3 linked regions of the Homo sapiens genome follow. The protein of the gene in region 2 purifies or fractionates together with the protein of the main gene of each other region. This does not show direct contact. Each region holds a gene or a part of one and is shown on either strand. Other genes may lie near its edges.

Region 1 (2,986 bases), on a different chromosome or scaffold from region 2:
CTGGAAAGCAAGAACACAATGTATAGACCTTACTGGCTACATTAAATGTTTTTAAAACTTTTCTAAAATTTGAAAGTAGGATCTTGAAAAGATATTTACACATTCATGTTCACTGCAGCATTATTCACTATAACCAAGAAGTGGAAGCAACCCACGTGAACATCAACAGCATCAACAGAATAACAGGCCAAGCGCGGTGGCTCACGCCTGTCATCGCAGCACTTCGGGAGGCCAAGGCAGGTGGATCACTTGAGGTCAGGAGTTCGAGACCAGCCTGGCCAACATGACGAAACCCTATCTCTTACTAAAAATACAAAAATTAGCTGGGCATGGTGGCACTTGCCTGTAATCCCAGTTACTTGGGAGGCTGAGGCACGAGAATTGCTTGAACCCAGGAAGCAGAGGTTGCAATGAGCCAAGCTTGCACCACTGCACTCCAGCCTCGGTGACACAGTGAGACCCTGTCTCAAAAGGAAATCCTGTCACATGTTACAACATGGATGAAACCTGGGGACATTATATTGAGTAAAACAAGCCAATCACAAAAGGACAGTATACTTTATAATTCCACTTATATGAAATATCAAGAGTAGCCAAAATCATGGAAACGTAAAACAGCATGGTGGTTCCCAGGGCCGGATGGAGAGGGGAATGGGGAGCTGGTCAATGGCTGTAGAGTTTCAGCTCTGCCAAATGAGAAAGACCTAGAGATCTGTTGCACAATGCTAACACTATGCATCTGGAGAGGGTTGGGGGGTTAAATTTTATGTGTTTTTCATCACAATGAAAAATTTGTAAATGTTTTCAAACTTAAGTGCCTAGTGAAGTGCTTGGAGTGCAGTAGCTGCCCTAGGCCCTCTGTCTCCTCTTCCATCCTGGGAACAGCAGCAGCAGCAGCAAACACTCAAGGCCCCTCACCCACCGTGCTGGAAACTGTGTGGGGAGCAGATGCTCAGAGTGAGCCACGGAGGCGGGAGGACCCAGCAGCAGGCGGGGGCTTGCCCACATGGCCACAGGTGAGCTGCTCGGCCTCTCGGCTTTGGTGCCTGCCTCTTGGAAGACTGAGGGGATAAATTGGTTACTAATAGATGTCATATAGTTAAGTAATGCAATGGAAAAGGCCATCTTCCAACGAGGTCCTCCCTTCTCCACCTTCAACACTGCTTGTCCCTGGCCAGCAGCCTTAGTTTAAAGAGTGCCGGAGACTAGGCTCCATGACAAGGCGACAGAGCCGGGGCACAGGCTAAGATGAACCATGAGGCCAGCTCCCTCTAATGGACTACAGCAGCCAGGCAGGGGCCACAGCAGTCCCGCTAGGGCCTCTGAAAGCACCAGGACACAAGGCATGACCCTCTAGAGCGGCCTCTGGACCCCAGGACTTCATTCCACCAGGAAAGAGCTAAGCATGACTTACATTAACACAAGCATCATGAAAGTGAACCAAGGAGGGAAAGACATGAAAAGCCAGAGGTAGGCTGTTTCTACATTTTTAAATACACTTTTCTACATTTAAATGTCACAGATACTTAGACTGCACTGACTTGACAGATAGACTAACAGCTACGAAGCACTTGTTGCAAATGGCTTGTTACTAAAAATGCTTTCAAAATATATAATAGGCCGGGCACAGTGGCTCACGCCTGTAATCCCAGCACTTTGGGAGGCCGAGAAGGGTGGATCACCTGAGGTCAGGAGTTCGAGATCAGCCTGGCCAACATGGTGAAATCCCGTCTCTACTAAAAATACAAAAATTAGCCAGGCGTGGTGGTGGGAGCCTGTAATCCCAGCTACTCAGGAGACTGAGGCAAGAGAATCACTGGAAGCCAGGAAGCAGAGGCTGCAGTCAGCCGAGATCGCGCCACTGCACTCCACCCTGGGCGACAGAGTGAGACTCTGTCTCAAAAAAAAGAAAAACAACAACAAAAAACAAGAACCATATAATAGAAGCGCCTCCCACCACCCTGTGTCCTCCCATTCCTCCCTGCCCCGTCCCACCTTCCCCAGAGACCTCCCCTCTGAATGGCCCTCACCTTGTGAGTCATCAGCAACTTAAAGACACTAGAGAGAAGGCTGGACACATGAAGCTGGAAAAACAAAATAAAGGCTAATGCAGACCACCGAGCCTTCCAGAACCGCTCATTTCCCACCACCCCCACACTCTCAGCCCCAGCATCCCACCCCACTCCCCCGCCAGGGCACACATACACCAGTCAGCACAAAAGGGACCATCTGACAAACTCTGAAAGGACTCCTCCAGCACAAGCCCAACTCCACCTCAAGACTCGGTCACAGAGGCCTTTGGAAGACAAGCCTTTGAGCCCCACCCACCCCATCCCTGAAGCAACCACAAAAATCACACCTGCCTATAATCCTAGCACTTTGGGAGGCCAAGGCGGGCGGATCACTTGAGGTCAGGAGTTCGAGACCAGCCTGGCCAACATGGTGAAACCCCATTTCTACTAGAAATATAAAAATTAGCCGGGTGTGGTGGCGGGTGCCTGTAATCCCAGCTACTCGGGAGGCTGAGGCAGGAGAATCGCTTGAATCCGGGAGGTGGAAGTTGCAGTGAGCCGAGACAGCATCACTACACTCCAACCTGGGTGATACAGCAAGACTCCATCTCAAAAAAATTTTTAAAAAATCACACCTGGATAGACTATCAGCAGGGCCAGCGTGCCAGTGGCCACTCCTTGTCTGACCCATTCCTGCTAATGTGGCCATGAACTTGGGGATAAAACAGTCACATTTGCTAGAACTGTGTATAAAATACAAAGCAGGCTCTGGCTTGGGTTTAAATAAGGGACATGCGCATTGGGCACATCATTTGGCTGCTTGGAGACCACAGTCCTCCCTCCCTGTATGCTTGGCTGTCCCCAAATGAACAGCGACCCCTGGATGAGGAAGGAGCTGCAGCCTCCTAAGTGGCACCGCACAAGGAGGCCCCCTTGAGCACAACGGACTTCACTGGGGCTCCTCATGCCTGGAA
Region 2 (3,653 bases):
TTCTTGTGATTTAAAACCAAATATTTTAAGTGATATATCTAATAGAAATTGACATGAAATTATTTCATTTAAAAGTTACAATAAAAGGCAAATAGACATCCGTATTTGTCTCATTTTAGAAAACATAGGCTTTAAGAATCAAAAGTAAGCTTCCAAGCTCACGGCCAGGATTACAACTTCATATTACAGAAATGTTTAATAACAAATATTTGACTAACAGATTATAATTCTGAAGTTGTACATTTTTAAAAGCCTTTTAATTTTGCTTCTTTACTAAAAAAACTATGAACTGATGAACTCACAATAGAAAATTAATAATAATTTCAGGGAAAAAAAAAAAAGGCACATCCAGGCACCACATTCAAGGTGATCGGTAAAACGCAGTGTCCCGGGTCTACTGCACATAATCAACAGACTGCAAATAAACTACTCCGGAAAATTCTAAAATAGGACAAGAATATTCTGTAAAAGCCGGGATAACACGACTGCACTGACGCTCTGCTAGAGGGCTGTTCTGTTGCCAAGGTGCGAGCTTCCCAGAAGGAGCAGCTGCTGGCCATCTAAGCGCTCACTCCCCACAGACGCTTCCCTTCCACGGTCCATCATCTCCGAGCCATCAGAGGCTGGACCGTCTCTCCGGTCTGGGCACACACCTCGTGATTGCAGCTCTCCACAGCACCGGGGCGAGCAAGAGGCTGAGCGTGGTCACACTCAGTATAAGGAGGTACACCTGCAACAGCAAAGTGCAGAGCGGGTCACAGAGACTGTCAGGACTAGCACCTGCAACAGGAAAGCACAGGGCTGGTCTCACTGAGCTGGGAGGGACGCCTGCAAAGCTAGAGTCCTGAGGCTGAGCACAGTCACGCTGAGTGCTGGGAGGGATGCCTGCACGGGGGGGTGGGGGATGGAAGCTAAGCGCGGTCATGCCGAGTGCTGGGAGGGACGCCTGCACATCATAAATTCACTACTATCTCTTTAAAGCACATGGAAGTACAGCCAGAAGCTGAGGACATTGGGATGTAGGAGAGACTGTGATTTCAAGATCAGTGATGCATGGTTAGTCCTGATGGGCCACAGGATAACAGCTTTAGCCTGTGTTTGCCTGAAGGCCAACCCCGGGCCACAGTAACAAGCCAGCCTGCCCCACAGCTTCCCTGACCCTGGGGATGCGGCCTTGGGTCAGGCCTCAGGTGGAGCTTCCTGTAAGCAATTCTACCTTTCAGCAATTACTTCCACTGCACTCAACACCTGGACTTCTACCCGCCTCACACTTACACAATGCAAGGAGACAAGGCCGTGAGTCCGAATGCCCAGGGCCATCTCAGTGTCCACAGGAACCTCCACCCAGCTCTCCGGGCACACTGCCATTACGGGTATTTCACGTTTCTGGGGTGCTACTTATGTGCACACTGGCAGTTCAGCTTTAAAAAGTTAGTTTTCTTTCAGAAGAAATATCTGACATTTAATTAGACTTGTTGTAAAAGGTTAATGCAATAGTTCAAGCAGTACTAACTGCAACTTTCCTCTGAAAACGCCACATGCTGGATGAGCAGAGAGCAGCCAGGCCTCTGCGTGCCCCCCTGGAGGAGGACCCTGCCCCCAGGCCCCGCTGTGCTGCCGAGCCGCCTTCGCCACACCCGACTCAAACCCAGAGTGCAGCCCGTGCCGCCCGAGAAGCGCTCCGCGGGGGGAAGCCACTCACCTCCCGAGAGATGACGCCCGCTCTTCGCGCCCGGCTCCCCAGGACAAAGGAAAACTCGCTGACCTGGGCAAGCCCCGCAGAGACGATCCACTTGATGTACTGGCTGCTCCTCGGCAGAATGAGAGACAGGACCAGCGCCGCCAGGAGAAACTGCAAGAGCGGTTCATTACGTCACTGCTGAAGACTGGACCCACACAGAGTTAAACACACACGAAACAGAGAACCCAGACGAGCCACAGGCACGCTGCGATGGTCCCTGAATAACACGTCAAGTAGGGAAAGGCACAGAAGCACTCCAAACACCCGAAGGCACCAAATACACGCAAAACCTCTTAAATAATCCACACTGAACAATAAGGCAAAATTAAGCCTTTCGGTTCATTAGCAGAAAATAATAAGCCTTGCCCAAGCCCCCCCGCCCCCGCCCCAACCAAACTAGATTAATAGCATTAAGCGTGGGGTACTCAAGGTGGAAATTTCTTTTTAATACAGAGAGATGTGTGTCTCTGGGCCGAGCAGCTAAGAGCTGGTGGTGTGTCTTTGGGCCGAGTAGCTAAGAGCTGGTGGAGTGGTCCAACGATCATCACAGCTTCTGGCTCCTTAAAACGGAAATGACCTAAGTCACTGTCTATGAGCCAGAAAGCCACTGGTTGCTGACTAGGTCATCACACCTTCAATTAAATGTGGACACAGGCAGCTCGATCACTGGCAGTCACGGGGGACAGACAGAAAGTGCCTACACCATTTTCCAGTCTTTAAAAAGCATGTCTGCATCTGTCAGAGGAGGACGGGCTGGACTGCAGCCAAGGCCCGTCCTGAGGGTCCCAAAAGGTTAGTTCCCCCCTTTAAACACGCTCAATTCTGAAACAATCGATCACATGGACAAACCCAGACCGCCCAGCCTCGTCTACATCTGCCTCCCCCGGGGTCCAGTGGCCCAGTGGGCCTCCTCCGAGATGAGGAGCAGGGCCGGCTCTGCAGGCCCGATGTGGGCCCCACTGGAAACCAGGGCCACAGGGAGGGCTATGCTGAGCCTGCAAACTGCGAGGGGCGTGGACCCTTCCAGTCCATACCTTCATCACCACCACTGACAAGGTGAGGAACACCAGCACCGTGAGCTCGTACGCCACAAACGTGGGGAACACGTGGAGCCCTGTTGGGAACAGGACAGACACGTTACGACCGCAGGACAGCCTCCCCCAGCGCACACTATTTCTCACAACTTCAGTGTGTCACTTGCTTCAATACAGGAATTAAAATCCTAAATCCTCCCAAGTGCACGTGTGAAAGCAACAGCAAATGCTAAAAAGCCGCCCCTTTCCTGAGCGAACCGGGGAAAAGCCTGCCCTGGGATGACCTGTCTGATGTGGTGGGATCCCAGCTCCACTCCCTGCAACAGGCCTCAACTGCAGAGGACACAGCAAAACACACAGAGGCGGCACTCGGTCTGGCACTCCTTCAGGAAATATTCCAGCTGAGGTGCAGATGATCCCAGAGCCCACAGCCCCACAGTGCCCAGGAGTGCCCAGGAGTGCCACGCTCACAGGACGCCTGTGGTCAATGTTCCTTTCCTTCCTTTATTTGGCTCACACATTTTTAAAAACAATGGGAAACGTTGTCTCCACATATTTCTTCTCTCTGCTCTCAGGACTCTCGGACTGGGCTGCTCAGTCCTGCTGTGCTGCCGAGTGACGCAGAGGGGCCGGCGGTGCTGGGGCTGGACCTGAGCTTGGGCTCAGCTCTCCAGCCACAGCCTGGAGCTGCCCAGTGATGCATGTCAGCCCTCGGAGGAAGCCCGGCAGCCCAGAGGCCTCCTCTTGATCGGAAGGACCCAGACCCCAGGGTTAGGTGCACGGAGCAGGCCCATGACCTTTCTGCCGTTCACAAACCACTGTCTCTACCTGACCCAGAAACACAAATGTAAACACTGGCCTTTTTTCTCTTGCCACGA
Region 3 (3,653 bases), on a different chromosome or scaffold from region 2:
ATGATGAGTGACAGATTTGTAACCTAAGGCAGGCTGGACAGCTCAAAAGTCAGTGCATTTAATCAGTCTTATTTGCAGTCAATTAAAAACAAGCACGCAAACAAACAAAACAGTCAAATGAAAACATTAATCACTGCCTCACACCCACAGGATCTCAAGGTTGTCAAGGAAAGATAATTTTAAAACTCAGGTCCAATTCTAATTTAAAATTACTTTAAAAAGACAATGTTTGCTTACTGCAAGTGTACTTAGAACAGCATGTTCTTTTATAGAAATTAAAAACTTAGTAGGCAGTACATGCAACCCACACTAGGGACTTCCATACTTAAAGCTTTAAAGCAAAATGTTTTTTCATGCAGAAGTAAGTTCTAAGCAGATATATGCCAGTAAGTGTTTACCTCAGAGAAAGAGGGTGGGACAGGGGTTTGGAGAACTTTTGTATAACTACATATTTCCACATTATTTCAATTTTAGAAGAGTACTTTTTCTTATGTTTTTATTTCCCACTCAGGTAGATTGAGAGAGTACTTCTAATTACGTTTCAATGAGTCAAAATCAAACAAGCACCTGAAGTCCAGATTATATGAAATAGCTTTACCTCCTTTATCCTCCTGTTTGAACTTGAACATCTCAAAATAATCTTTCTGAGAACAATCCAAAGGAACATTTATAAAATTAAGGTCAAAAACAGTAAAAGAGCTAAAAACCAATGCTTTTGAATTCATTATAGCAAAAGCAGTAAGGTATTATGAAAAATGCAAACAGTGAAGTTATAAGACTTGTGACTAGGCTAAAGAAATGCAACTGAACAACAGCAGGTAAAACTTACGAAGTACAAGAAAACAAAAACAAGAGATGCAAGCTCTATGCTCTTGAAAGAAAAAGATTTAACAGAATCAATGTATCAGGAAAAGTATTTTCAAATCAAAAGCTCTGGAAAAATATTCAAGGTAAAGTAAATAGGGTTAATTAATAACCACAATAAACATTTGTTACAAATATGGAATATATAAAATATTATTGAAATTAAATATGCTGTATACCAGCATATCCAAATAAACACCATATACTATCCAAATAAACACCACTTATGCATGCACAGATAAAAATACTACTAAAATTATAAAGAGCTTTTTCCCTAAAGTAAAACAATTTAATTGTTTCAAACACTGCACTACAGTGGTATTCAAAGTACCAGGGTATATTAGTGAGGTGGTACAGGAGTAAAAGTGCAATGAACTAGAAATCCAGCATCTCAGTTTGAGTTGCCCCTGCTCTGCCAATATGTGACTCTGGGCAGGTTATTCAACTTCTCTGAGACTCAGTCTCCTCATCAATAAAGTGGGGATAGGCCAGGCGCGGTGGCTCACACCTGTAATCCCAGCACCTTGGGAGGTGGAGGCGGGTGGATCACTTGAGGTCAGGAGTTCGAGATCAGCCCGGCCAACATGGTGAAACCCTGTCTCTACTAAAAATACAAAAACTAGCAGGGCGTGGTGGCAGGCGCCTGTAATTCCACCTACTTGGGAAGCTGAGGCAAGAGGATCACTTGAGCCCGGGAGGTGGAGGTTGCAGTGAGCCGAGATCACGCCACTGCACTCCAGCCTGAGTGACATAGCAAGACTCCATCTCAAAAAAAAAAAAAAAAAAAAGTGGGGATAGTAACTACTACCCTACGTACCCCAGAAAGGGTTTCCATAATGCTTATATGAGATAATACGAGATGAATCCCCTTTGCAGGCTGTCATGGACACCACAAAGAAAAAATATTGGACCACATGCTCTCTTAAGGCCTTTCCAAGTCAGTTTCATATTTTGGCTTTTATTGTTGTACATTTTAAGAGACGCATATATAATACGCCAAAAGAGCCATATGAAATGGGCTTATTCTTAAGTAATAGCTTAGTACTACAACTACTAGCCGACATTTGCATAGCATTATAATGCTTATAATGTTACACGGCATTATTACTATGTGTTGTGCACTGATTTGAGTATTTTGCGTGTACTAATTTTCACAGCAACAGAAACTGGTGATCTCAATTGTCATACTACAAGTGAAGAAGCTATAATGTGGCTTGTAAAAAAGTTTGACTCGTGATACCATCTTATATTTGTAAGATTATAGTGCCTGGAGGCGTTTTCCACAAATATCTTATTTGATTCTTATCAGCAACCTTGTGAGACAGGTAGGGCAAACTATTATTTCCTCTACTTTAGAGAGGAGGAAATTTAAATTGAGAGTGACGGCTGGGTTTGGTAGCTCATGCCTGTAATCTCAGCACCTTGGGAGGTTGAGGTGACAAGACTGCTGTAGCCCTGGAGTTCAAGACCAGCCTGGGCAACATAGCAAGACCCCTATCTCTTAAAAAAACAGGAAAAAAAACTGAGAGGGCTTTAGTACCTGGCCCAAGATTATGAGGGTAACAGCAGTCAAAACTAGATCCCAAACCCATCTTCTGACTCCTAATCCAGGTTTACCCATCACCATACTAGCTCTGCAACTAAAATATACAAATACTGATAAATAAAACCAACATAATTTCTTACAAGGTACTCATCAATACAAAAATTCAAGCTATTGTACTCTGAAGTATATATATATTTTTTTTTTTTTTTGAGATGGAGTTTCACTCTTGTTGCCCAGGCTGGAGTGCAATGGTGCAATCTCGGCTCACCGCAACCTCTACCTCCTGGGTTCAAGCGATTCTCCTGCCTCAGCCTCCTGAGTAGCTGGGATTACAGGCATGCACCACATTGCCTGGCTAATTTTGTATTTTTAGTAGAGACGGGGTTTCTCCATGTTGGTCAGGCTGGTCTCGAACTCCTGACCTCAGGTGATCTGCCAGCCTTGGCCTCCCAAAGTGCTGGGATTACAGGTGTGAGCCACCGTGCCCGGCCTGAAGTATCTTTTAACACCAAATCCCTGACACTCTAATGAAAGTAACTTCTTGAATTGGTTGTGTGTCAAATACACAGTAGGGAAAAATTTCTTGGTAGCAAGGGATTGCCCTTAGGAACTGCCCTTAAAATTATATTTAAGTGTAAGGACCCATTTGCTAAGTAAAGAATCTGAACCTCAGACTAAGCTGCTGGACTACAAACTGCTACTCATTTCTGGGCTAAGGTGCGTCTTGTAGCCCAGGTATTAGAAAAATGTAAAGAGCAAGAAAAAGAAATGGCAAAGTCTACTATTAAGAAGGAGGTAGAATAAAGGATATGAATAATATCTGCATGTCTTGAGGCCTTTCCTATGGGTAGGTAACACAACTAAGAAACAATTATCACAATAGAATGACATGTCACCAGAAATCATCTTTGGGATTCATGCTATAGGATTACATTATAGGTAGAACTTCTATTACACCAAGGTACACGTAACTGTAATTTCTTATCAGGAGGGTCAAATATAAGCACAACTTATACTGGTATGACTGTACCCATGGTTTATGTGAGAATACGTGGTCTAATTATAGAGTTCATCAATTAATGGAGAAACTAAAATTAGAAGGGAACCAAAAGTCTACTTAAGAACCTATTTCAGAAAGCAAAATCCATATACATCCCACCTCAATTTATGTTAATCAAATCTGGTTATGCATATTAATACATACCTGGTAGAGTTCTTCTAAATTGTACTTAATTGAAGTACT

Evidence for each region.
Region 1: the proteins of SLC9D1 (region 2) and ADCK2 purify together in Homo sapiens (affinity purification with mass spectrometry; 2 studies listed by BioGRID and IntAct, with this or other methods). This does not show direct contact.
Region 3: the proteins of SLC9D1 (region 2) and CUL4B purify together in Homo sapiens (affinity purification with mass spectrometry; 2 studies listed by BioGRID and IntAct, with this or other methods). This does not show direct contact.

Annotation. Positions count from the first base shown.
Region 1 is NC_000007.14:140,689,858-140,692,843, reverse strand, and holds part of ADCK2 (uncharacterized aarF domain-containing protein kinase 2), read right to left. Parts: intron 2,085-2,986; coding exon 2,031-2,084; intron 1-2,030. UniProt on the Homo sapiens protein: The function of this protein is not yet clear. It is not known if it has protein kinase activity and what type of substrate it would phosphorylate (Ser, Thr or Tyr).
Region 2 is NC_000013.11:113,546,502-113,550,154, reverse strand, and holds part of SLC9D1 (transmembrane and coiled-coil domain-containing protein 3 isoform 1 precursor), read right to left. Parts: intron 2,856-3,653; coding exon 2,776-2,855; intron 1,853-2,775; coding exon 1,703-1,852; intron 731-1,702; coding exon 617-730; coding exon of another isoform or gene 603-616; 3' UTR 1-602. UniProt on the Homo sapiens protein: Probable Na(+)/H(+) antiporter.
Region 3 is NC_000023.11:120,554,310-120,557,962, forward strand, and holds part of CUL4B (cullin-4B), read right to left. Parts: coding exon 3,615-3,653; intron 1-3,614.